Regions from separate parts of the Homo sapiens genome. Here regions 1 and 2 are each linked to region 3. The links come from fine-mapping of genetic effects on gene expression. A gene starts in region 3. Each other region holds a variant in brackets. All regions are shown on one strand. Distances are from middle to middle. Region 1 overlaps ZFYVE28 (zinc finger FYVE-type containing 28). Region 2 holds the start of LOC105374352 (a long non-coding RNA gene). Region 3 holds the start of ZFYVE28 (zinc finger FYVE-type containing 28).

Region 1 (8,178 bases), 86 kb before region 3:
TATTGTTTTGGCTATTTAGGGCCCATTGCAGTTCCACATGAATTTTAGAACACCTTTTCCATTTCTGCAAAACAAAAAGGCCAATGGAGTTTCGACAGCAATTGCACAGAATCTGTAGATCACTTTATGGAGTATTGCCATTCTAACTATATTAAGTCTTCCCATCCATGAACATGGAATGTCTTTCTCTTTAATTATGTCTTTAATTTTTTCAGCAACGTTTTTTAGTTTTCAGCATCCATGCCTTTCACCTTCTTGATTAAATTTATTCCTAGGCATTTTACTCTTTTGAATGTTATCACACATTTCTTATTTAAAATAACAGCTAATTACATCCAATGGAATATTATTCAGCCTTAAAAAGGTAGGAAATTCTGACACATGCTACAACATGGGGGAAACTTGAAAACATTATGTGAAGTGAAATAAGACAGTCACAAAAGGGTAAATCCTATATATTAGGTTGGTGCAAAAGTAATTGCAATTTTTGCCATTAAAACCCTAAGAAAGGGTCAAAATGGCCAATTTTGTTATGTATATTTTACCACAATAAAGAAGAATGTTTATTGCTTTAATTTCTGTTTACAAAAGTTTTACCTATCAATGTTAAGAAACTCTGTAAAATAGAGACATACTATTTGATAACAGTTTTTGTGCTTAATACACTGGGGATGTTTTTGCATAGCATTAGGAGATTTTTCTCCATCATTATTTAAATGGCTACAGTATTGTTTTTAACCAATCCCTTAATTCTGGATATCCATCCCTTCTCAAATTTTTATGATTACAAGTAATACTTCGGGGATAATCTTTGTGGATATATATTTGTGCCCCCTCAGATCAATGCAACAAAATTCTGCAAAAGTCCACCACACTATGACATGACAGGCACTCAGGATGCATCCGTGAATAAGAGTTATAGTCTAGTGGGGGAGACACAAAAATAACAGAAATCCCATTTATATGAATAACCCAATAGCCAAATCTATAGAAACAGAAAATAGATTTGTGGTTCCCTAGGGTTAAGGGGCAGGATGAAGGATAATAGGGGGTGGAGGTGACCGCTCAGGAGTAAGAGACATCTTTGTGAGTAATGAAAATGTTATGAAATTTGTGGTGATGGCTGCACAATTCTGAATGTACCAAAAACGACTGTGCACTGTAGATGGGTGAGTCATAGGGTAATGAATTTTATCTCAGTAACATGGAAAAATAAATAACAGAGTAAGTCACGCAACCTGCTGGTGGGAGAGGGCTTGGGTGAGCGGTGCAGTGGTGGGGACATCGCAGAGGGAGGTACAGCAGGGAGTAGGGGACAGTGCAGAGGAGAGGACAGCACGGAAGAGGGGACATCATGGAGGGGACAGCACGGAGGAGGGAACATCATAAAGGAGGGGACAGCATGGAGGAGGGGACAGTGCAGAGGAGCACAGGGGAGAGGACATTGCAGAGGAAGGGACAGCATGGAGGAGGGGACAGCATGGAGAATGGGATAGCATGGAGAATGGGATAGCATAGAGGAGGGAACAGCATAGACAAGGGGACAGCATAGAGGAGGGGACAGTGTAGTGGAGGGGCCAGCACCATGGAGAGGACAGCATGGCCAAGAGGACACTGGAGCAGAGGGGACAGCGTGGAGGAGGAAACATCATGGAAAAGGGGACAGTGCGGGGGAGGGGACAGTGTGGCAGTAGGGATAGGACAGTCAAGGGGACCCTGAGCGAAGGGGACAGCATGGTGGAGACCCAGGGCAGCGGGTGCGTGGGGACTGGGGAGAGAGGACTGGTGTGGGCACGGTGCAGGCAGATCACGGTGGGAGCTCCGGCAAGGGTCTGAGCAGGGCAGAGATGACACCTTGTTTTGACACAGGTGGATGGGTGAGGGCCCCTGAAGAGGATCCGGCAACCATCCTGCAGGCCACGTGGGCGGTGGCTCCTGCACGTGTTCTGGGATGGGCTGGAAGGAGGGGGCTGGGGAGGAAGGCAGGGGTAGACGCTGGGATGGGCTGGAAGGAGGGGGCTGGGGAGGGAGGGAGGGGTAGATTCTGGGATGGGCTGGAAGGAGGGGCTGGGGAGGAAGGGAGGGAGGGGTAGAGGAGAGGGGCCTGGGTTCTGCACAGGTCCGGTCTGGGAAGCGTCGCACACACACAGCTGTGAGTGCAGACGGGCGAAGCCGCAGCGAGGCGGGCAGGCAGGTCTGTGCTGATGGGGACTGGGAAGTGACCACTGGGTCTAGAGGTTTTATTTCATTTCTTCCTTTAAAGGAACTGTTTTAAGGCCGGGGCTGGGCACGGTACCTCATGCCTGTAATCCTAGCACTTTAGGAGACCAAGGCAGGCAGATTGCTAGAGCCCGGGAACTCGAGACCAGCCTGGACAACACAGCAAGACCCTGTCTCTATTTTTTTTTTAATTAAAAAATAAAAATAAAAAGTTAAAAACAAAAAAAAGAAACTGTTTTAAGATAAATCCCCAAAAGTAAAACCAGTTTGTCAAAGAGTCTGAGCCTCGTGGAGACACTCTCCCCAGGACGCGTGTCTCAATCAGCAGGAGGGACTGACTGGATGCAGGTCTTAGGGAGGGGACAGGCTGAGGGGTGCAGGGCAAGTGGGGCCCCTCCCCTACGGCTCAGAGCAAGTCCCCACAGGGGTGACCCCCAGTTTTTGTCCTCACTGCCTGGTAAGGCCAGACCCCACCAGGCTGGGGACACCCTAAACAGGGGGAAGGGTGCCACCCAGCACTCCCTTCCACCTCCCCCTGCCAATCTGAAGGCCTCAGTTTACCACTGCCTCTGCCCCAGGCAGGCCTCCTCTGCCAGCCACAGAACTAGAGTTTTCTGCTTTCTTGTGTCACAGGTGAATAGCAGGCTCTGACCCTCGGGTGGGCTTGGTTCTGCCGCCTCCAGCTGTTGACCCCCAGCGGTGCCTTCGCCACTGGGAGCCCCTCAGAAGGGGACGGGAGCCTGGCCCGCAGCTCATGCTTGGTAAATGTGGCATCACTGTTCTGACACTGTGTGCTGGAGAAGGGACTGGGGCTCTCGGGCAGCAGCACAGTCACGGGCAGGAGCCACAGAGGAGCTCCACCCTCAGCTCCTGCCCCGCTCAGCACCCCTGCCTCCCCTCTGCTCTCAGTGTTCCCTGGGGGTCACCTGGGGGGTCCCAGGATGCCCACTTCACAGAGGCAGGATCCTGCGAGGGTGTGGGCCCAGGAATGCAGGCTAGAGGGGTCTTCATTTCTGCAGAAGTTCCTGCGGCCCCCTGGTCCTTGCTCGAGCCCTGGACTTGCCCCTGAGCATACACCACCTGCACCAACGTGCCCCTGCCTGCCACCTGCACAGCTCCCACCTCTGGGCCGGCTGCCCTGGGGAGCCTCTCCCTCACGCCTTCAGCTCCTGTCCACCCCATGGGGTCCCTGCACTGAGTCCCCCTTCCAGCATCCAGAACATTCCACAGCACTGTGGGTCAGCCCATCTGTCCATCTCCCTGGTACAAGCACAGGGCGAGGTATGCAGTAGGCACTCAATACTTGCTCACTGAATGAACACAGGAAGGAGCAGGTTCTGGGCCCCACCACGGGCAGCTGTGGCCTCTGCCTGTCCGGCTCAAAGCGGTCGCTGTGGATGACGAGGAACAAGACGGGATCCGCTGGTGGTGCAGGGCTGCAGGGCCCCAGTGAGCATCCCAGAGGGGCGGCCTTAGGAACAGCTGCCCACTCAGCACTCACCCGCTCAGCACTCACCCGCCCTGCTCGAGGCTCGCTGCACAGAGGGTTGCAGTGGCAGCCTGGTGCACCCCACGGTTCCTCGTATCCACAGCCTGGCTCTGTGGCTAGATGCCTGCCTCTGTGGGGGCTCACAGCTGGCCACCCCCCTGGACAGGCCTGCTCCCTGGACTCTGGCTTTGGGCTCTTATGCCCTCTCGCCCTTCCTCCCTCCTTCAATCCAAGCCCCCTTCACCTCCTGGGGGTCCCTCACTCCCTTTCCAGGCTCTCCCACTGTCCTGAGCCCGAGGGGACCCCACGCCAGTGCCTCCAGGAGGGGACCCGCGGGACAAAGCCTCTGCCAACAGAAGCTCCAGCCTCCCTCCCCAACCTCCCTCCCTTGGCCTCCCCCGCAGCACTGGCCTCCCCTGCTGCCCTTCCCTGACCCCCCCTGCTGCCCTTCCCTGACCCCCCACACTCCCCCACCTCCCTCCCCAAGCTGCCCCCCCACCTCCCTCCTCTGGCCTCCCCTACCCTGATCCCCCAGCCCCCGCCTCCCCTTGCCTCCCAGGATGAAAGCCTAGGACAGAAGGAGGAGCAGAGGTTTGGCCACCAGCAGGTGGACTGAGGTCGGCAAGCAGGACACAGATGATACTGGTTGGGGGAAGTGGCTGCTGTTCTGCGGTCGCCTGTACTCGGGCAAACACGGGCAGCAGACTCAGTGTGAAAGTCCCGAAACACAGTATGCCTGGGGTGCGGCCTGCGGGGAGGGTCACCTGGGGTCACCTGCACACTCCAGGCCCGACCTTTAAGAGGAAGTCCAGCCAGGGCTCACCGGCTCATTGACACGGGCATGAGTGGGCGGGTGGCTTGGTGCCACACCTCAAAGCACT[C/T]GCGGAGAACTTTTTACAAGGACAGCAGAGCTGTTCATTTGCTGTGAGTGCCCTTGGGACAAGGAGACACCTGTACCTGAGGCAAAGGCTCACAGCGCCCTGCGCCCTGGTGGAAACAAGGCCGGCTCGCAGGATCTTTGCTGTTCTGTTTTTTAAACAAAGAGAAGAATAAGGACCAAAACTGCCTGTCATTTTCTTCAAGTGAGTTTGGCCACAGAGAGACACTTGTCTAGAAAAGAAAAACAATGTCACCAAATCCTGTGGCCCATGGGAAGGGGCGCTCTGTGCTCTGGGGTGGCCTCTCCCCGCCAGGACACTTCCCTCCAAGCCACCTTGTCGCTGGCCACTGGGGACACCCTGCCCTCCAGCCCTGAGGTCTTCAGGTGAAAGGAAGTTCCCTGAGTCTAACGGCAGGAGGATTTCCGAGCCTCCCTCTGGCGCGATGTGAGGCTCACTCTCTCTGGTTTGCTAACTTTGTGAAAGACGCAACCTCTGCGAGGACACGGGAAGGACGGCGCAGGAAACAGGCCAGGCCCTGAGCTATTGGAGGGGACTCTGGGGAGCCAGGGCCCAGCAGATAGAGACCACGCTGGAGCCCTCCCGGAGGAGGTGGCACCAGGACCTAGGGGAGTGAGCGGCCTGGCCCAGGGGTGTCCAGACTGGCCCCGGCAGCAGCCCCCATTGCTCCCCACTCCAACAAGGGGTGTTCGGCGCATCCTGGGGTTAAGCACTTCTGTCCCCTGCAGGCCCCGCCGCTGGCCCTAGCCCACTGCACTGCCACCGCCCCGCGTGCTCCCACCTCTGCACCCCCATTTCCCACGGGAGGGGTATCCATGCTCAACCCCAGTGCACTGCCACGTGTGCCTGTGCCCCGGGGTCCCCTGGGGCTCCTCAGCATGGCCTCAGTGAGGTCTCTCCAGCCTGAGCCTGGACCAGTCGTGGCCTCTGTGCCCACCCCCCACTCCCCGACCACTTCACTGACATCCACATCTCCACGGGCATCTCTCTCAAGGGCTCCCCATCCCCTACTCTGCCCAGTCCCACACCTGCTGGCCGCTGCCCACTGGACCCTCCCCCTTCCCCCTCCCCTTCCCCCTCCCCACTTCCGCCTCCCCTCTTCCCCCTCCCCTCTTCCCCCTCCCCTCTTCCCCCTCCCCTCTTCCCCCTCCCCTCTTCCCCCTCCCCACTTCCGCCTCCCCCCCAGCTGCAAGCTCCACTAAGCTCTCTGTGGTCCACTCACTCCTCCGCCCCCGTGACCATCCGCCTGGCAGGGGCATGGGGAATCCCCGTCTGGAGTCAGGGTGTGGATGAGCAGCCTGACCCCTGGGCTCTAACCTTGGCCCCAGACAGCTCAGAGACGCTAAGCAGGTGACCCCGCGCATCCTGCCTCGGTGGATTTCAGGCCTGAGCTTCCATGTGCTGTGTTCACGTCCTTGAGCCCCACAGGACCCTACAGGCTGCCTTGAGTTCCCTGCTCTCCCAGACGGCCCCGCTGGCAGGAAAGGTTCCACACAGGTATTCCATCAGCCAGACCAACTGCCCCCACCTGCCCTTCAACCCAATGTGCTTCACCTCCCTGCCAGCCCCCAAATTATTCAAACAAGCCAATCACAGCCTCCTGAGGGACCCGGGGGGCAGCTCGTCCTCTTGTTACCACCAAGTCTGCCTCCCACAGCCCCTGCGTGGCCACTCTGTTCCGAGCATGACCCCTGTGTGACCCTCATGGTCTCCTGTGACTAATGAGCTCACCTGTGGATCTCACCTGTCCAGTGGCAGGTGGCAGGTGTTAGGCCACCTTGCCCTATCTAGGGTGACAGAGCCTCCCTCACCAGCAAGGTGAACAGGGGGCACTCAGGACACGTGGTCCCCTGGTCTGCTGAGGGCTGACAGCAGGCCTGCCTGTCACTGATCGGGACAGCTGAGCGGCCACCGTGAGGTGGAGACGCCATGGACCGGCACCCGCACGGGACCTGGCACCATCAGCCCTGCCCGTCCCGCAGGTTTCTGCAGAGGTCCTGGGCACAGGAGGCACTCACCACACGATGGCCAGCCTGGGGATGCTGAACATGAGGGCCGGCTCGTAGTCATCAATCATGTCCTGAGTCAGGTACCCGAAGTCCAGGGCCCTGTCCGGGGAGACGGACAGTGAGCAGCATGAGGGCTGGCCCACCACAGCCACAGGTTGGACCCCAGCAGGGACAGGCAGTGCGCTCAATCTGTACCTGCAGCCACGCGTGGTGGCCACGTCAAGAGGTGACACATGCCACCCCCAGTCCTCATATGTGCAAGGGGCTGGGACTGCAGGAAAAGGCCACACACTTCCCTAAATGCCCTGGCAGGTGGCTCCAGCTTGACCTTCCCATCTGCCAGTCCCCACCTCTGCCCCAGGAGGCAGGGGCAGGGAGGATGTGTGAGGACAGCTATGATGCCCAGCAAAGACAGTAAGGCAACCCAGAGGACGGCTCTGCTCAGCCAGGAGACCGAAACAACTCCGGTGTCAAGAATGAACACGGAACAAAAATACTGCCCCAAACAATTCAACACTTCCCTGAGAAACCAGCTTCCTTTCTCCTCCCCGGGGCTTGTGGAGGGCTTTTCCTGCACCTCGTGAGCAGGCCTGCTGGCATCGTGACTTTTCAAAATAAAAGGAATTTCCCGTCATCTTATTTTCTGATAATTTGAAATATCTCTCAAAGCACAAAGAGTAAAAATTTGCTTTTTAAAAATAACAAACATACAATGTGATAATAGTCAATTTCAAATCTTCCAAACACCATAGTACCACTTGAACAAGAGAAACATCAAGGTTACATCTTAACCCCAAAGTCCATTGAGAAAACCAGACTCCAAATTACTGTACAAAGCCTGATAAGAATATTGATGGCTTCCCCCTGCCCCCCCCACTCCCTAAAAAAGAAACACTTGTTCAACAGACTTAAAACTCAGCAAAAACTCATTCCTGGACTGGGGAGGTGGGGAGTGAGGATTGAGGAGTGAGGATGTGAGGATTGAGGAGGTGAGGAGTGAGAATGTGAGAAATAAGGAGCTAAGGAGTAAGGAGGTGAGGAGTAAGGAGGTGAGGAATGATGAGGTGAGGAGTGAGGAGGTGAGGAGGTGAGGAGTGAGGAGATGAGGAGGTGAGGAGGTGTGGATTGAGGAGGTGAGGAGTGAGGAGGTGAGGAGTGAGAAGGTGAGGAGGGAGGAGGTGAAGAGTGAGGAGGTGAGGTGAGGAGTTAGGAGGTGGGGAAGTGAGGAGGTGAGTGAGGAGGTGAGGAGTGAGGGGGTGAGGAGTTAGGTGGTGAGGAGTGAGGAGGTGAGGAGTTAGGAGGTGGGGAAGTGAGGAGGTGAGGAGTGAGGACATGAGGAGTGAGTAGGTGAGGAGTGAGGGGGTGAGGAAGGTGACAAGGTTTGGACGTCCAATCCATCATGCCAGAGCCTTCCAGCTTTTGTCCTCTGACAGTGACTTCACCTGCAGGATCTGACCTTCTGGCAGACAGAAAAGCGACCGTGGGGCGGTGGAAGGGGGCCGGGCAGAGGTAAAGGCAGGGGTGGCCTCTACCCTCTGCCCACCTGTGAGGAGAAGCCGGA
Region 2 (8,178 bases), 67 kb before region 3:
GAAACTAGAGAGAGAAGAGTAAATGAAACCCAAAGCAAACAGAAGAAAGGAATAGCAACAATCAGAGCAGAAATTTAATGAAAGAGAAAAGATTAAAGCAATAGAGAAAATCAATGAAGCTAAAATAGTTCCTTTGAGAATATCAGTAAAATTGATAAAACTCTATCAACACAGTTCAGAATGAAAACAGAAGATACAACTTAATAACAGGAACGAGAGAGGTGACATCGCGGTGGATCCTACATATATTAAAAGGATTATAAGGAAATATTACAAACAACTTATGCCAATAAATTCAACAACTTAGATGAAATTTCTTAAAAGGCATAAACTACCAAATCTCTCTCAAGAAGAAATTTCTGAAATAATGTGAAAACCCTATATTTATTCAAGAAATTAAATTTGTAGTTAAAAATCTTCCTACAAAGAAAACTCCAGTTCCAGATAGATTAATAGTGAATTCTACCAAACATTTAAGAAGAACTAACACTACACAAACTCTTCCATAAAACTGAAGAGGACAGAATCCTTCACAACTCATCTATGACACTGTCTTGACACCAAAATCAGACAAAGACTGTGGGCCCATATCCCTAATGAATATTGATCCAAAAATTCCTAACAAAATTTTAGGAAACTGAATTCAATAATGCGTAAAAGGATAATGTACCATGAACGAGTGGGATTTATCCCAGGAATGCAGGAGTAATTTTTTTTAACATTCAAAAATCAATCAATGTATGCTTATGCTCTTCCTGGACCAAATAAGGCAGAATCTCTGGGATTGGGTCCTGGCATCTATATTTTTTAAGCTTTCACAAGGACTGTGAACCATGGATATGGTCTAACATCTGCATTTTCTTAGCAACATATCTGATCTCTTCTCTATTTTTAAGAATCTATTTTTATTTAGGGCCAAATTCTGTCTTTTATCTTTGTAGCATATTTGTGATTCCCAGCTGGTTCTCTGATCCTCTTTCTACCAGAGAACTAAAATGATGCGTCTTCCATCATTTTGTAAGACAAGAAGACACCAAGAGTTCCAGCTACCCTGACCTTTGGATGCTATGGCATCAGGCAAACAACCCCTTGTTTTCTGTTTATTGCATGTTCTGACAGACGAGTCACCCAGTCTGAGTGGATTTAGTGTTCTAATTCATGAAATAAGAGAATCGGACCAGATGAGCCCAAAGTCTCTTTCAGTGCTATAGATAATTATAACTCTCAAATAGCTATGGTGAGAAGGCTGAATGTATATACTGGCATGAGATTCAAACTTTTGGCAGCTCGACACAGTTTACAATTGTTTATGTGATACCATAGCTATCATATGCCAAAAAGAGTAAGTCACACTATTCAAAAAGAAAATATGCAAACACCGCATATTCTCACTCATAGGTGGGAATTGAACAATGAGAACATATGGACACAGGAAGGGGAACATCACACTCTGGGGACTGTTGTGGGGTGGGGGGAGGGGGGAGGGATAGAATTGGGAGATATACCTAATGCTAGATGATGAGTTAGTGGGTGCAGCGCACCAGCATGGGACATGTATACATATGTAACTAACCTGCACATTGTGCACATGTACCCTAAAACTTAAAGTATAATAATAAAAAAAATAAAATAAATTAAAATGTAAATGAATCAGCCAAGCGTTCCCTGTTTCAATGATATAACTGAGTGCCTACTGTGTACTAGGCACTGGGATGTACTGGTGAGTGTTGTGTGTACACACAGCCCTGCCCTCATGGCATCTGCATGCTGCTATTGCTGTTGAGTGATGGAGTGGATACTAATAAAAAGTCAGTATTTATCGAGTAAAAAAAACCATCAATGTAATTTACCATAATAAAAATAACATGATAATCTCCGTTGACACACAAAAAAAGCATCTGAAAAAAAAAATCTAACATCTATTCCTAATAAGAACTCTCAGCAAGCTATGAGTAGGTGGCAACTGCCTTGGCCTGACAAAGGGTAGCTACGAAAATCCTACAGCTAACATCACGCTTATCTTTGGGGAGAAAGCATTCAGAGTTCCATCATTAACAAAAGATGTCTGCTCTCACCACTTCTATTCAACTTTGTACTGGAATTCTAGCTAGTTCAATAGGGTGACACACAGACACACACACACACACACACACACACACACACTCGGCATCCAGAGAGAAAAGGAAGAAGTGAAGATTATCTTTATTGGCAAAAAATTTAACAGAATCTACAAAAAGCTGCCAGAAATAATAAGTGTATTTAGAAAGTATGATATTGTAGGCCGGGCGCAGTGGCTCACGCCTGTAATCCCAGCACTTTGGGAGGCCGAGGCAGGTGGATCACGAGGTCAGGAGATCGAGACCATCCTGGCTAACATGGTGAAACCCCATCTCTACTAAAAATACAAAAAATTAGCCGGGCGAGGTGGCGGGCGCCTGTAGTCCCAGCTACTCGGGAGGCTGAGGCAGGAGAATGGTGTGAACCTGGGAGGCGGAACTTGGACTGAGCCGAGATCGCGCCACTGCACTCCAGCCTGGGCGACAGAGCGAGACTCCGTCTCAAAAAAAAAAAAAGAAAGAAAGAAAGTATGATATTGTAAAATATACGTTTGGTCATCTTCCCATTTCCTGACATACAGCTCCTAAAAAGCCTTGGACTCTCCAGAGTGATAGGAGTTCACTGGTGGCTGGGGGGCCCTAGACAGCTTCAGGATGGGGGGCTGGTCCCTGGGAAGATCAACGCATGTTAGAGGGTTGGGACTTTCAGCCCCCACCCCCAACCTCCGGGGAGGGGAGAGGCACTGAAGAATTGGGAAGTGTTCTCACCAACAGCCAATGATATATAATCAATCATGGCTCTATAATGAAGCTTCCAAAAACACCCAAAAGGACTGGTTCAGAAAGCTTCCTTTGGGCTGGCGAACACATCCGCCTGCCAGGAGAAGGGCACACCCCAACTCCACGGGACAGAAGCTCCTGCCCTTGGGACCCTTCCCGACCTTAGCCTGTGCACCTCTTCATCAGGCTGTTCATCTGTACCTGTTACTACATTCTTTATTCATAAGCCAGAACCATAAACGAAGTGTTTCCCTGAGTTCTGTGAGCCACTCTACAAATTTATCCAACCCAGAAGGGGGTCATGGGAGCCCCGATTTATAGCCAGCTGGACAGAAGCACAGACCACACCTGGACTTGGGATTGGCATCTGAATGGGGGGCCGTCTTGTGGGACTGAGCCCTCACCCTGTGGGTTCTGAGGTCACTCCGGGTGGACAGTGTCAAGATGAGGTTGAATAGAGGACCCCCACTGCTGTCCCCTGCAGAACCTGCTGGGGAATGACTCGGTGTGTGGGGAATACCCTACTCATCTGGTCATGGAGTGTTGAGTGACTGTGTGAGAGTAGAGAGTAGAAAGTAGGAAAAACCATTACCTAGATTCCCACAGAAAGGTATTAGGATACAAGATCTATATACAAAAGTCAATAGTATTTCCATATAGGAGCACCAAACAATCAAAAATTGACATTTAGGGCCAGGCACGGTGACTCATGCCCGTAATCCCAGAACTTTGGGAGGCCAGGGCAGGTGGATCACTTGAGTTCAGGAGTTTGAGACCAGCCTGGCCAACATGGTGAAACCCCGTCTCTACTAAAAATACAAAAATTAGCAGGGCATGGTGG[C/T]GCATGCCTGTAATCCCAGCTACTCAGGAGGCTAAGGCAGGAGAATCGCTTGAACCTGGGAGGTGGAGGTTGCAGTGAGCCGAGATCGTATGACTGCACTCCAGCCTGGGCGAGAGAGTGAGACCCCACAGGGTGAGGGCTCAGTCCCACAAGACGGCGCCCCTTCAGATGCTGATCCCAAGTCCAGGCATGGTCTGTGCTTCTGTCCAGCTGGCTGTAAACTGGGGCTCCCATGGCCCCCTTCTGGGGTTGGATTAATTTGTAGAGTGGCTCGCAGAACTCAGGGAAACACTTCGTTTATGGTTCTGGCTTATTTTTAAAAATTGACATGTAATAGCAATACCACTTATAATGTCATAAAAAGACATGAAATACAATTATCCCTCAGTACACGCAGGGGACAGGTTCCAGGACCCCCAGCGTATATCATATCTGCACATACTCAAGTCCCACGGCTGGACCAGCGGAACTTGCACAGCCCTCCATATATGTGGGTTTTGTGTCCTGAGAATACTGTATTTTAGATCCAAGTTAGGTTGAAACAATGCATGTATAAATGGACCTGTGCAGTTCAAACCATGTTGTTCAATGTCCAGCTGTGCTGGGCGTAAGGTGGGCCCTGTGAGATGCCCTCAGGGAGCTGGGAGGAACACCGGGGAGCACACCTGGATCTGCGGGGAGGAGAAGCTGAGAGCCTCCCCTGGGGGTGCTCAGCACAGACATGGAGCAGGATGAGGCCGCCATGTCGGGGGGTGGACAGGAAGAGGCCAAGGACTGGGCGTGGGACCCACATGGAGGAGGCTGGGGGAGGAAGGGGAGATAGGAGGAGGGAGGAAGAGGGGGAGGCGTGGAAGAGGGAAGAAGGGTCACAAAGGAGCCAGTGGGATACGAGATGAGCCAGAGGCAGGGCCCTGGAGCGGAGTGGACAGAAGTGAGCCCGAATCAGATGATGCTGAGGGACCTGGACAGTGTCCACACCCTCTCAGTTCCTTCAAAGACCCCAGCAGCAAGGAGAAGAACCTGAGTGTTTAAGGCCTTCACTATGCTGGGAGCATCCCCCTCCAGATCCTTCTCACAGGGCAGTTCTCACGGTGATACATCCCAATTAAAGCCTGTGGCAGCGGGAAGCCTGAGAAGGGGCCACCTAGCTTGGCAGCCCCCACCTCTCAAACTCACTTAAAACCAGGCTTTATCATCAACTCTGTCAGTCAACAAAAAAGCACACAGGTCACAGAGCATGTAAAGGGAACAGAGCCCCTCCCCAAAGGTTGCCATGAGGAATAGCATCTGATCCCCCTTCCTCATCGGTGGGGCCACGGGGCAGGTCTAGCACCTCTCCTCCGTGGCACTTTCCTCCTCCAGGCTCCAGGGCCCCCAGCACCTGTCCCCTGGGCAGAAGGTCTTTCTAACCTGAGCTCCTGGGGGCAGGGACTCTCCCCACCCACAGAGGCTGTCCCTGGAGGGGCCAGAACATCTGTGGGAACATCTGAACACATGGAAGGTGGAGGCTGCCACTGAACAGCCCAAAAAAGAGCCCAGAGCCTGATCCGGCCAGAAAAGTTGTCCTGGCCACACACAGGGCCCTAATGCTGCTGAGTTCCCACCGCAGCAGGGCCAGGCCCAGAGCCAGGGCTGGGGTGCAGCCAGCTTGGCCACTTTGCAGGAGCCCCACAGGGTGGGACCCTCAGGACCACGGTGACACAGTGATAGACTCCCCCCTGTTGGAGGAGCATGTGTCAGGCCCCACCTCCCATGGCCGCAAGGATTCAGCAAGACCCTGTGGGAAGAGTACACCAAGAACATTCCGGAACTTTGTGAAAACCCCTCGTCATCACTTGATAAAACTTTGCAGCATGCCGTTTGCCGTTGTGTTGGAAATGCCTCTGAGTGCTTGGTGTACTGGGAAGAAAACCTCGGCCAGGGTATTTTTAGCGGCAGCTTCCAGGGCCATCTGTCAATTATGCAGCAGATGCTGGCAGCACCATTAGTCAGTGGCAGAGTGTGACCACTGCATGGTACCCAAGCTCTGCACCAGCACCTGGGCAGGCCCACCCCTCCCACACTGGCTGCCCCTTGGCTCAGAAGCCTGCTCACTCCGCACCCCCTGCCCCCGCTCTCCCAGCCTCTGCTCCCCCAAGTGTCCCGTGCGGTTTCTCACTTCCAGCCCGGCTACCCACCCCACGCATCCTGCCCGGGATGGTCCCTCTTCCTGGGCCTGGCTTCTCTAGCACCCGACCCTGACAACGCCACCACAGGGGGCCAGCAGGTGACAAAGCCTTGGTCTACTGAGGACAGGCCACTCTGTCCAATGCCCAGCGGGGCCAGCCAGCTTCTGCTGCCCCGTGGCTCACCTGACAGGAGCGGAACTGGCTGACCAGCAGCGTGCACCGCTGGGGGTCCTTCCGCCCATCCAGGCTGTCCAGCTCCGCGGCCACCTGGTTCAGCTCCTCGTCGGCATAGTAGAACCGGGCAAGCAGCTGCGGATCCGACCTCTGCAGGAGAGAGGGGCCAGGGCCATGAGTGGGTGGGGAACTGGAGGGGATGCCTCGGTTGGTTGCCTTGTCCCCAGGCCATGTGTGGGCTCAGCCTGGGACCTTCCACCCTGAGCAGCAGCCGGCTCTTTTATCAGCTTTCCACACCAGGATCTAGAGGGAAACAACTAAAGCTGAGGCTCAGGCTGCCAGCTCAACCCCTGATTCAAGGGTCCCCAGGGCCCCTGCATTTCACCCCAGGACTGTGGGGAATCCAGATCCTTTGCTGCACCCCAGACACAAGGTCCTCACGCTCCCTCTGGTGGAGAGCCCACAGAAAAGGGGCTCTGGGAAGAGTGGGGTCCCCGGCGCTCCAGGCGACAAAAGCAGCTCTCAGGAAATTTTTTTTTTTTTTTTTTTTTTGAGATGGAGTTTCACTCTTGTTGCACAGGCTGGAGTGCAATGGCACGATCCCAACTCACTGCAACCTCCGCCTCCTGGGTTCAAGCGATTCTACTGTCTCAGCCTCCCCAGTAACTGGGATTATAGGTGCCCGCTGTCATGCCTGGATAATTTTTGTATTTTTAGTAGAGACGGGGTTTCGCCATATTGGCCAGGCTAGTCTCGAACTCCTGACCTCAGGTGATCCACGCGCCTCAGCCTCCCAAAGTGCTGGGATTACAAACATGAGCCACTGTGCCCGGCCAGGAAATATTTTTTTATTCACAAAACCAAAATATGAAGTGGCCCAGAATAACAATAAAATTTACTACACTTAAGTGAAGAATGATTGACAGTGCATCATAAACCATTTCCCATGATTCAGAAACAATTTGCCACACACCCCCCACTTCTCTAGGAACTTCACAGCATCTCAGTTTCCACACCAGTGCACTGTGGCAGGAAACTCTACGCTCAGAGGTTCCCCTCCCACCAAACACGCAGGGGCTCAGAAGCTGGTCTTCAACTGCAACCACCACACGCCCCAACCCCGCCTGGCCTCCTTGGTGCTCTACGCACACAGCACGGCCACCGTCCCTTGGCACGTGAGGTTCCCACTGCCCCAGGATGCAAACAGCTTGTTCCCCTGGATCAGAGTTTCGAGGATTCAAAGAAGCCCCTTACAAAAGTGATGAAGTCCTTGAAAATATATATATATATATATATATATATATATATATATATATATATATATATATATATATATATATATATATATAATGATTCTTCTTTTTTTTTTTTTTTTTGAGACAGAGTCTCACTCTGTCGCCCAGGCTGGAGTGCAGTGGCGTGATCTTAGTTGACTGCAACCTCTGCCTCCTGGGTTCAAGCGATTCTCCTGCCTCAGCCTCCCGAATAGCTGGGATTATAGGCATCCATCACCACGCCCGGCCAATTTTTGTATTTTCTGTAGAGATGGGGTTTTACTATGTTGGCCAGGCTGCTCTCAAACTCCTGACCTCGTGATCCACCCGCCTCAGCCTTCCAAAGTGCTGGGATTACAGGCCTGAGCCACTGTGCCCAGCCTATATACGTATTTTTTGAGACAGGGTCTCACTCTGTTGCCCAGGCTGGAGTACAGTGGCATGAGCATGGCTCACTGCAACCTCCGCCTCCTGGGCTCAAGAGATCCTCCTGCCTCAGCCTCCCAAGTAGCTGAGACTATAGGCACACATCACTATATTCAGCTAATTTTAAATTTTTTCTAGAGATGGGGTCTCCCTGTGTTGCCCAGCCTGGTCTTGAACTCCTGGCCTGAAGCCATCCTCCCACCTTGGCCTCCCAAAGTTGCGGAGATTATAGAAGTGAGTCACTGTGCCTGGCCTGAACCTATTTTTATAAAAAGGACTCTTTATAATCACAGAGAGAAAGACAGAGGAGAGGAGAATATACCAAATCGCGCACAGTTCGAATGCGCTGGCCGTGTTCCCCACAGACTCCCATCTCCGTCGGGGCCGTTTCCTCCGTGTGCTCTGGCCTGCCACCCCTCCCCTCTGTGTGGCCTTGGCCAGGGTCACTTTGTCCTGAC
Region 3 (8,178 bases):
AAGCTGACAGGTTTTCCTGCACCGTCTCTTCCTGGGAGTGTTCAAAGTCAGGATAATACTTACAAGATCTGAACACTTTATACCAAGAAAAATCATATTGGTGTTTAAAAGACTGATTAAGAAAGTGAATAGAAATATAATTTGCAAATGTCATTTTAATGTTAAACTTTTGTATTATTCATCAGGCATTCTTTTACTCAACTTAGGTAGCTAACGTAGTAGCTAATTTTTATTCAGATATCAAAATGTATGTCACACAGGAATATTTTTCAGCATTTCCAATTGCTTTTTATAACTATAAGAACAGTGAATAATATTTTCATTTCAGAATATTTTCCACCATATTGTGATGAACAAGAAGCTCAGTGCTGGCCAAGCACAGTGGCTCACACCTGTAATCCCAGTGCTTCGGGAGGCTGAGGCAGGAGGATTGCTTGAGGCCAGGAATTTGAGTCCAGCCGGGGCAACATAGTGAGACCCTGTCTCTACACACACACACACACACACACACACACTTAAAAATTTATAAAAAGAAGCTCGCTGTGCAGTTTTAAACCAAAGCAGGAATTCAATTAAAAATTCAGTTTGAATTGTACATCTATCTAAATACAAAGTGGGAAAAAAATTCCTGACTGCAGGCAACAGTCTCCCCCAGACACATCCTCCCACAGCTAATGTTTAACACTTCAACTCTTCCAGGCCCAGAATCTTCCCAGGACTGACTTTGTGCTTATTTGTGCCAAAATGTGTTAAATTAGACAGGAAGGGGAAGCATAAAATTCAATTCATAATCCAAGGCAAGAATCTGAGCTTTGGTTTGAAAAATGAAAAGCTATGGAGTGACATAACATACTCCGACCCTTCAAACAATCAAGATATTTAACTCCAAAGACATTTCTCAAATAAGAGACAGCCCAAGTTCAGACTGCCCACAGGGCACCAGCTCCCAGAAAAATGCTATGGCCAGAGACAGATCTGAAATGGAGATACGTCTCAAGTCCAGAGCTCTGGAGCTACTACCAGACAGCATGCCAGGAGAAGACAACGAGAAAAAGGAGAGATCCACATCAATCCTGTTCCATCCCTTCTCCGGAGGCACACAGCTCTGGGCTGATCCCTGGGATCAGCTGATTCACTGGCTGTGCCCTCTTGGTGCCCGCCGCCTGCCTGGAAAGGCAGCTGCCTGCTGAAGAGGAAAAGTTGGGAACGCAATTCCTAATTCTCAGGACAACGTCTAGTACCATGTTCTACCTTTAACCTGTCTTCCCTAAACGGAAACAGACAAGGCCATCCTGAAATTACTCAGCTACTCATGAAACAGAGTCTACAATTATTTTTCCTTCCTTTTCAACACGATTAGAAGGGTGATCCCCCAAATGCGGCCTCTTCCACAGCCACGTCCGGAGGGGCATCCCCTAGTGTCCCAGCAAGTGCCTTCAGCGACACCAGAATGTTAGTTAAGACCTAAGACACATTTCTCCAGCTGCCTCCCGCCATTTGTCACAGAAAATAATGCTGCTGCACGCCCCCAAAACGCCGTTTTACAAGCAGACTTGGTTTTCAGTAACTGGTGAGGAAAAGTCACTGGAACCAAACACCATTCATACAGCTATCCAGAGCGGAGGCCACCGCCCTACCCCGGCAGAGGCACATGGGGGCAGCAGGCAGGACCGAGAGGGGCTCGAAGGCGCCGCAGGAGGAGAGGCTGGGCGCAGACGGCTCGGCCCCAAACCACACCCAGCGCCAGGAAACGCAAGGCTCGGGACGAACCCTTAAGAAGTCGCTGCTAGGGACAGGGAGGTTGGGAGCAGGGAGTGACGCCACAGGAACCCTGAATCCCCCCGAGTCCCCTCCCAATCAAGCCAAGGCCGAGCAAGGGGCGCCCCATGTACCGTAAGCCCTCAACCCAACACTCCGGCAACGACAAACAGAATTCCCCGACCTCAAAGGCCGTGAAGCACGCGCCCTTCGGGGCCCTGAGTGAGCCCTCAAACCTCCGTGCCGATCTTCCAAACCCACCTCCCGCCTTCCTGGAATGGGCGCACGCGAGGCACGGATTTCAGGAAACCTCTGCCGTGACAGCTCACCCACGGTGGAGGCGGAGGCCTGGGACGCTGGACGGAGAAAGGCGGCCAGTGGAGGGAGGAGGGGTAGGTCGGCAACGCGGTGGCCTCGGACGTCCGAGCTGCCCGGACGAAGCGCTGGCCCCACTCCCGCCCTTGGTCGCCGCGGTGACCCCACCCGAGCCGTGACCTCCCCCAAGATCTCAGGGCCCGGGCCTCCCCGCTGCGCCGGCCCCAGGGTGCCACCCTCGGACGCCCAGATGCGCCCTGGACCCTGCGCCGGGATCCTGAACACCGCCGCGCCTTCATCCCGCGCCGAGCGCGCCCGGCCCTGCTCCGGCTGCAGCGGGCACGAGCCCCAGGCGGGCGGCGGGGACGCAGCGCCCGCAGTGCGACTGGCGCAGCCGCTGAGGCACGGGGCGCGCCGCCCGGACCCCGACCCCGCGGCGCTAGGAGAGGCGCGGGCGCCGGCTGGAGAGCCGCACCTCCCGCCCCGCCGAGGCTGCTGGCCACGGGCGCGCTCGCCCCAAGGGCCGGGCGGAGGACCTGTCCCGGATTCCAGAGGACGTGGGTGGGGAAGGGACAAGGATAGGGACAAGGGAGGGGACGCGAACTGGGCCGAGGTGTGGGTCAGTCCTGGTTCGGGAAGGGAGGCCGTTGGCAGGGCCATCAGGATCCTCTCTGGACATGGAAGGACGGGTCTGCCCTGGACCCAGGGATTGGGAAATGTGGGTTCTCTCAGAACCTGGGGAAGTGGGGAGAGGGTCTGTTCTGGAGTGCGGAGGGAGATCTATTCCGGGCCCAGGACAATGGGGGTGGGGGCAGGACGGGAATGAGGGGGCATTCCTGGTGCAGGGAGGGGAGACGGAGAAGTAGTAGGGGGTCTGCTCCGGGCCCGCGGGCTGGGGACCACGAAGTGTAGGAGGGCACCGTCCAGGACCGGGATGAGGAGGGAGAGGGGCCCGTTGTGGCCCTGGATAGAGGGGGAGGGAAAGTGCGCCCCGGCCCGAGAGGAGGAGCAGGAGGGTCAGTCCTGGACCCGGGCTTAGGAAGCCGGGAGGGAGGTTCGGATCCGCCTCAGAGACAGGGCGATGAAGATCTGTCCAAGTCTTGGAGTGGAGGGAAGGATGTCGGCGGTGGGGGAAGAGGCCGGCCACGGACAGGGAAAGGGAGTCCGTCTTGTAGGGCGGACGGGCGGTCCTGGGGAAGGGAGAGGCCGCGACGCGGGGGGCGTCCGGCCCGAGCGGGGCCGCTCACCTTGGGTTTGTAGAGCCACTTTCGGAACCTGTTCATCATCGCCGCGCCGGCCCTGGCCGGACTCCGGGCGGCCCTCGCCCTCCGCAGCGCTGCGCCCGGGCCCGGCTGAGGCGCGGGGCGGACGCGGAGGCACGGCCGGAGCCCCCGCGCTGTCGCAGGGAGGCTGGCTAGCGAAGCCCGGAGCGCCGAGCGGGCGGCGGGCAGGTGCGCGGGGCAGGTGCGCGGCCCTGAGTATGCTCTGCAAGCGGCGCGCCGGGCAGACCTCAGACCCGGGAGTGGGCGCTCGGGCGCACGGACAGACGCGGGCACGGGGGCGCGCGGCTCCTCGCTGCTCACTGACACCCAGCGCTCCGCTGGTCACGGCCGCCCCGCGCCGCACATGCGCCTAGGGCGCCGCGAGCCCCGGGCCCACCGCGCGCTGCGGGCGGGGCGGGCGGGGCGGAGGCGGCCCAATCCCTGCGCGGGCGCCGCACCCCGCCCGAGGCGCGCTCCCTGCCGGCGGGGCGACCCGCCGCGCCCGGGTATCCAAGAAACTACAAGTCCCGAAAGGCATGGCGGGGAGGTGGCGCCCAGGGCTTGGCGTCCCGGGCCGCGCCGCGGCGCTGTGTATTGTGGGAGTTGTAGTCCACCCGATGGCGGCGGAGCGTGCCGCCGGTTGCTAGGTGACGACGCCAAACAGCCGCGGCGTCCTGCCTACCGGGAGCTGACGGACGACGACTGCCAACACCTTAGCCCCAGCTGGCCCAGGAAACTGCTGCGGTGGCAGGTGGCGGCGGCAGGAGGGCTCGGCTGCCCCGAGCGCCCGCCAGGTACGGGGGCGGGACAGGTGCGGGGCGACGCGCCGCCGATTTTCATGACCTGCCGGCCGGTTCCCTCTCGCTCGCTGCTCATCTTGCTTCTCCCAAACACCTCTTCTGTCTTCTTCCCAGCTCCCCGATGAAAGTGAACGGTGCCTCTTTTTTTTTTTTTAAATCACCACTATCAGCGGTGCGTTCTAAAAAGATACTCTTCCGCCCTCGCTACTCCCCCCAGTGGTGCCCTAATTTGTACCTTAAAACGCTCACCTCAATCTGAGTACCTGCTATGTGTCAAGCAGAGAGCTAAAAACCCACACGTGGCCTCACTTAAACTTCCCATTGACAGCCAGAGAAGCAGGCACAACGAGGCCGGCGTGCCCTGGCTGTGGGGGTTGCATCCAGATCACGGCGGATCTGGGTCGGCCTGACCCCACAGCGCTGCACTTTTCCCTGCCGCACCACCACCACGTCTCTGGCTTGTTGTGAAACGTGCAGATGTAAGACACAGGAGATGGAAGTCATGCCCCCCTCGGTTCAGAATTGAGAAGTCTGACCTGTTCCTGCTTGTCCTCACTGGCCAGTGCCAGGTGCTCAGAAAGGTCCGTGGGCTCCATGACCACTTTATTCCAACAGACGCGATGTGAGCCTAGGCGCGCTGGCATCTAAGATTTCTCTTAGTTGGGGGTAGGGTCCATGTTTATTTTTGAGTAACTGATTGATTTTCCCTACTCTCCTCTTCCTACCACCCAGTCGACCCTCTGAAGGGCAAAACCCCTCTGGAGTTTCCCCTTATCTCCAATTCCTTCCCACTTGTTCTTTCTGGAAACTACTCCCATCAGATTTTCACCCAACCACTCCTCTGAAGCTCTTTATCAAAGTCATCCTTGACCTTGATGTTGCAAAATCCGATGATCGGGGTCAGCGCTCATCTCTTCCTTGAACTGTCACTACCACGTGACCCAGCCGACTGTGCCCTCTCCGTGACACAGCATCCTCACTTGGCTGAAACAGATCCCACTGTCCACTTCTCCTCCTCGCTCCTGGCCACTCCTGCTTGATCTCCTTGGCTGGATGCCTCCCCTGCTCACCGACCTCTCAACACTGGAGACCCTGGACTCAGTCCTTGGAACCTACTCTATCCACTCCCTCCCTGGGGGATTTCCTACAGTTACATGGTTTTATAAACAACCATTTTCTCCCAAACTTCTCAAAACCTATATCTCTAGCCTCAACCCTGAAACTCCAGACCTGTTTACCTGTTCTTCACCATTTGGACGCCTAACAGATCCTCTCAAATTTAACGTGTCCCAAACCACACTCTCAGTCTTCCCCCATAAAACCTGCTGCTCCCAAAGCCATCATTTCTTCAGCACAGGATCTTGGGGTAGACACTTGATGGGCTTGTCCACTGAGTGAATGGCTGTTCTCTGTGGGTCTATCCTTGGCCAACTCCAAGGCCTGGAGCAGTTGTATCTGCTCAGAGGCTCCCTTCCTGTGTTTTATAGTTTGAAATTGTGCATGGGATGAAGGCTGAACTTGGGGAAGTGGGGTATCAGTTAGGTTTAGCTGCATGTATTGAAAAATCCCAACATCACAGTGGCCTAAACAAGAATATTACTCATATTTTTATAAAAGAGGTCCATGGAGAGGCAATCGTGGTTGGTATGGCAGCCCTAAAGTCCTCAAGGATCAGCTTTTCTATCTGCCATTCACGTTTCTTCATGATCCAGGATGGCTGCCCACATTCCTGCCATCACCTCCTCGGCCCAGGAACCAGCTGCAAAAGAGAAGATGGATATGCCTCTCTCGTTCAGGGAGACTTTCCAGAAGTCTCACACCTTTCCACTTCTTGAAGGTGGTGGGAGAACTTAGCCACACAACCATGCCCCAGCTGCCAGGGAGGCTGGGAAATGCCATCTTTCAATTGGGCAGCAGTAGACCCAGCTAAAAATCAGAGTTTTCTTATTTGGGAGGAAAGGGGTAGTGGAGATTGAAAAGCAACTAGCAAAAGCTGCCACGTGGGGTTGTGCTTTAAGCACAAGCCATAGGGGCATGACTTGGTAGCAACCCTTAGGAGACTGGCTTTAATCGGGAGAAAAGACTATATTTTAATTAACATACATTTGAGATCTTAGGTAAATGAGTTATCTCCTAGTGGTTGAGAGTGTTGAGCTGTTTTGTGTCTGATGGAATTTAAACCTCCTCATATAATCTCATTTGTGTCTATAAAATATTTCCTAAGGAAAGAGAAGCTTTAGTCTGCCCACCCTTTTTTTTTTTTTTTTTTTTTTGAGATGGCGTCTCGCTCTGTCGCCCAGGCTGGAGTGCAGAGGCACGATCTCAGCTCACTGCGACCTCTGCCTCCCGGGTTCAAGCAATTCTCTGCCTCAGCCTCCCAAGTAGCTGGTATTACAGGCACCTGCCACCACGCCTGGCTAATTTTTGTATTTTTAGTAGAGATGGGTTTTCACCATGTTGACTGGTCTGGAACTCCTGATCTCAAGTGATCTGCCCGCCTTGGCTTCCCAAAGTGCTGGGATTACAGGCATGAGCCACCGCGCCCAGCCTAGTCCAGCCCACCTTTAAAGTTGCCTTAAATATAAGATAGTCAAGTCCTGATCAATGGAGTTAAAATCAATATGAGAAAAAAATCTTTAAACTTGAGAATTAAATCCCACTTCCCACATAGATGGTACTTCACTATTAAAGCTGAACTTTGGAATGCTCAGGTGGGAGGATCGCTTCAGGCCAGGAGTTCAAGACCAGCCTGGGCAACATAGTAAGACCCCTGTCTCTACAAAAAAAAAAAAAAAATTAAGCACAAAATTAGTCGGGCGTGGTAGTACATGCCTAGAGTCCCAGCTACCCCGGAGGCTGAGGCAGGAGGATCACTTGAGCTGCAGTGAGTTATCATCGAGCCACTGCACTCCAGCCTGGGTGACAGAGTGAGACCCTAAATCAGGAAAAAAATAAAATCAGGCTGAGAATTTGAGAATGCATGAATGTAGCTGAGATGCTGAAAGCAGGCGTCACAGTTGGATGAATTTTAGTACCTATTTCCTCCCCAAAGAGGTGATTGTTTTGATGAAGTTCCTAGGCTAATTTCAGTGGGATTCAGAATTCAAGCATCTCTTTTCCTTACATTCACCTTCACATACACCTGCTCTGCGCCAGATTCAGGGGTGCAGAGGCCCCGCCCCAGGGACCTTCAGGCCGGACAGTGAACCAGGGTTCCAGGGGCAGGGCAGGACAATTTGAGTCAGGCTGGACTCCAAAGGAGCTCTTCACCCCCGTCCCCATCTTCAACTTGGTTTGTCCATTTATTCCTTCCAGTTCATTCCTACCAGGTCCGCCCTGGATTGGGGGGCGGGCTTGGCATGGCCCTCTTCCTCCTCCTCGATTTGCATCACCAAAGGGTACCTAGGATCATCCTTTCTCCAGAATGCTCCAGCTCCAGGACAGGGGGAGACGGCAGGGAAACTGTTCCACCTTGGCAGCAGCTCCCACCACACACATGCAGACCATCCACTCTCACCGCCCCCACCAGGCGCAAGAAGGGGCCCTTTTCCTGGGTGTATACCCTGTTCCTCCAGGCAGAGCTGTATCCAGAGCAGATTCAAAAAGGCTGGGGCAAGGGGACCCCATCCCAGGGCAGCCTGACCCACAACGTGACGTGGAGGCAGGGCAAGAAAACTCACTCTTTAACATTGTTTCTCTAGAAGTAGACCTTTACATTTATTTATTAGACAGGATCTCAATGTGTCACCCAGCCTAGAGTGTGGTAGCACAGACATAGCCCAAAGCACCTTCAACCTCCTGGGCTCAAGGGATCCTCCCACCTCAGCCCCCCAAGGAGCTAGGACTACAGGCGTGCCACCACACCTGAGTCATTCTTTAATTTTTTTGTAGAGAAGTCCCCAGTTACGCTGTGGAGTTTTAAAAAACGTCTCAGTGTGGCTGACCCTGGCGAAGATGGGGAGTGGGATTTGTGAGCTGTGAGCTCACTGCCTACAGGGAGCCCCCACTGCTCTCAGCAATGCCTGGAGTGAAAGCCACAAGTC

What was found. PIP is the estimated chance that this variant, and not a neighbour inherited with it, causes the effect.
Region 1: its variant is fine-mapped to the expression of ZFYVE28 in lung (TOPMed, PIP above 0.99).
Region 2: its variant is fine-mapped to the expression of ZFYVE28 in thyroid (GTEx, PIP above 0.99).

What each region holds. Positions count from the first base shown.
Region 1 is chr4:2,329,079-2,337,256 of GRCh38, forward strand. ZFYVE28 (zinc finger FYVE-type containing 28) reads right to left here. Exons shown (of 13, transcript NM_020972.3): 6 at 6,627-6,716. Among named protein-coding and RNA genes, the nearest start is that of MXD4, 71 kb to the left of the region's middle. RefSeq lists enhancers at 1,836-2,335, 2,650-3,447, 3,448-4,245, 4,236-4,315, 4,246-5,043 and 2 more. The variant C/T (reference allele first, on the strand shown) is at 4,591.
Region 2 is chr4:2,347,904-2,356,081 of GRCh38, forward strand. It overlaps ZFYVE28 (zinc finger FYVE-type containing 28), which reads right to left. Exons shown (of 13, transcript NM_020972.3): 2 at 6,030-6,170. It overlaps LOC105374352 (a long non-coding RNA gene), which reads right to left and starts at 3,600. Exons shown (of 2, transcript XR_925056.3): 1 at 1-3,600. The variant C/T (reference allele first, on the strand shown) is at 3,679.
Region 3 is chr4:2,414,965-2,423,142 of GRCh38, forward strand. ZFYVE28 (zinc finger FYVE-type containing 28) reads right to left here and starts at 3,681. Exons shown (of 13, transcript NM_020972.3): 1 at 3,321-3,681. The coding sequence starts at 3,359. CFAP99 (cilia and flagella associated protein 99) reads left to right here and starts at 3,991. Exons shown (of 16, transcript NM_001193282.4): 1 at 3,991-4,129. RefSeq lists enhancers at 1,283-1,841, 1,842-2,400, 7,791-8,178 and silencers at 3,406-3,565, 3,686-3,915, 4,156-4,205.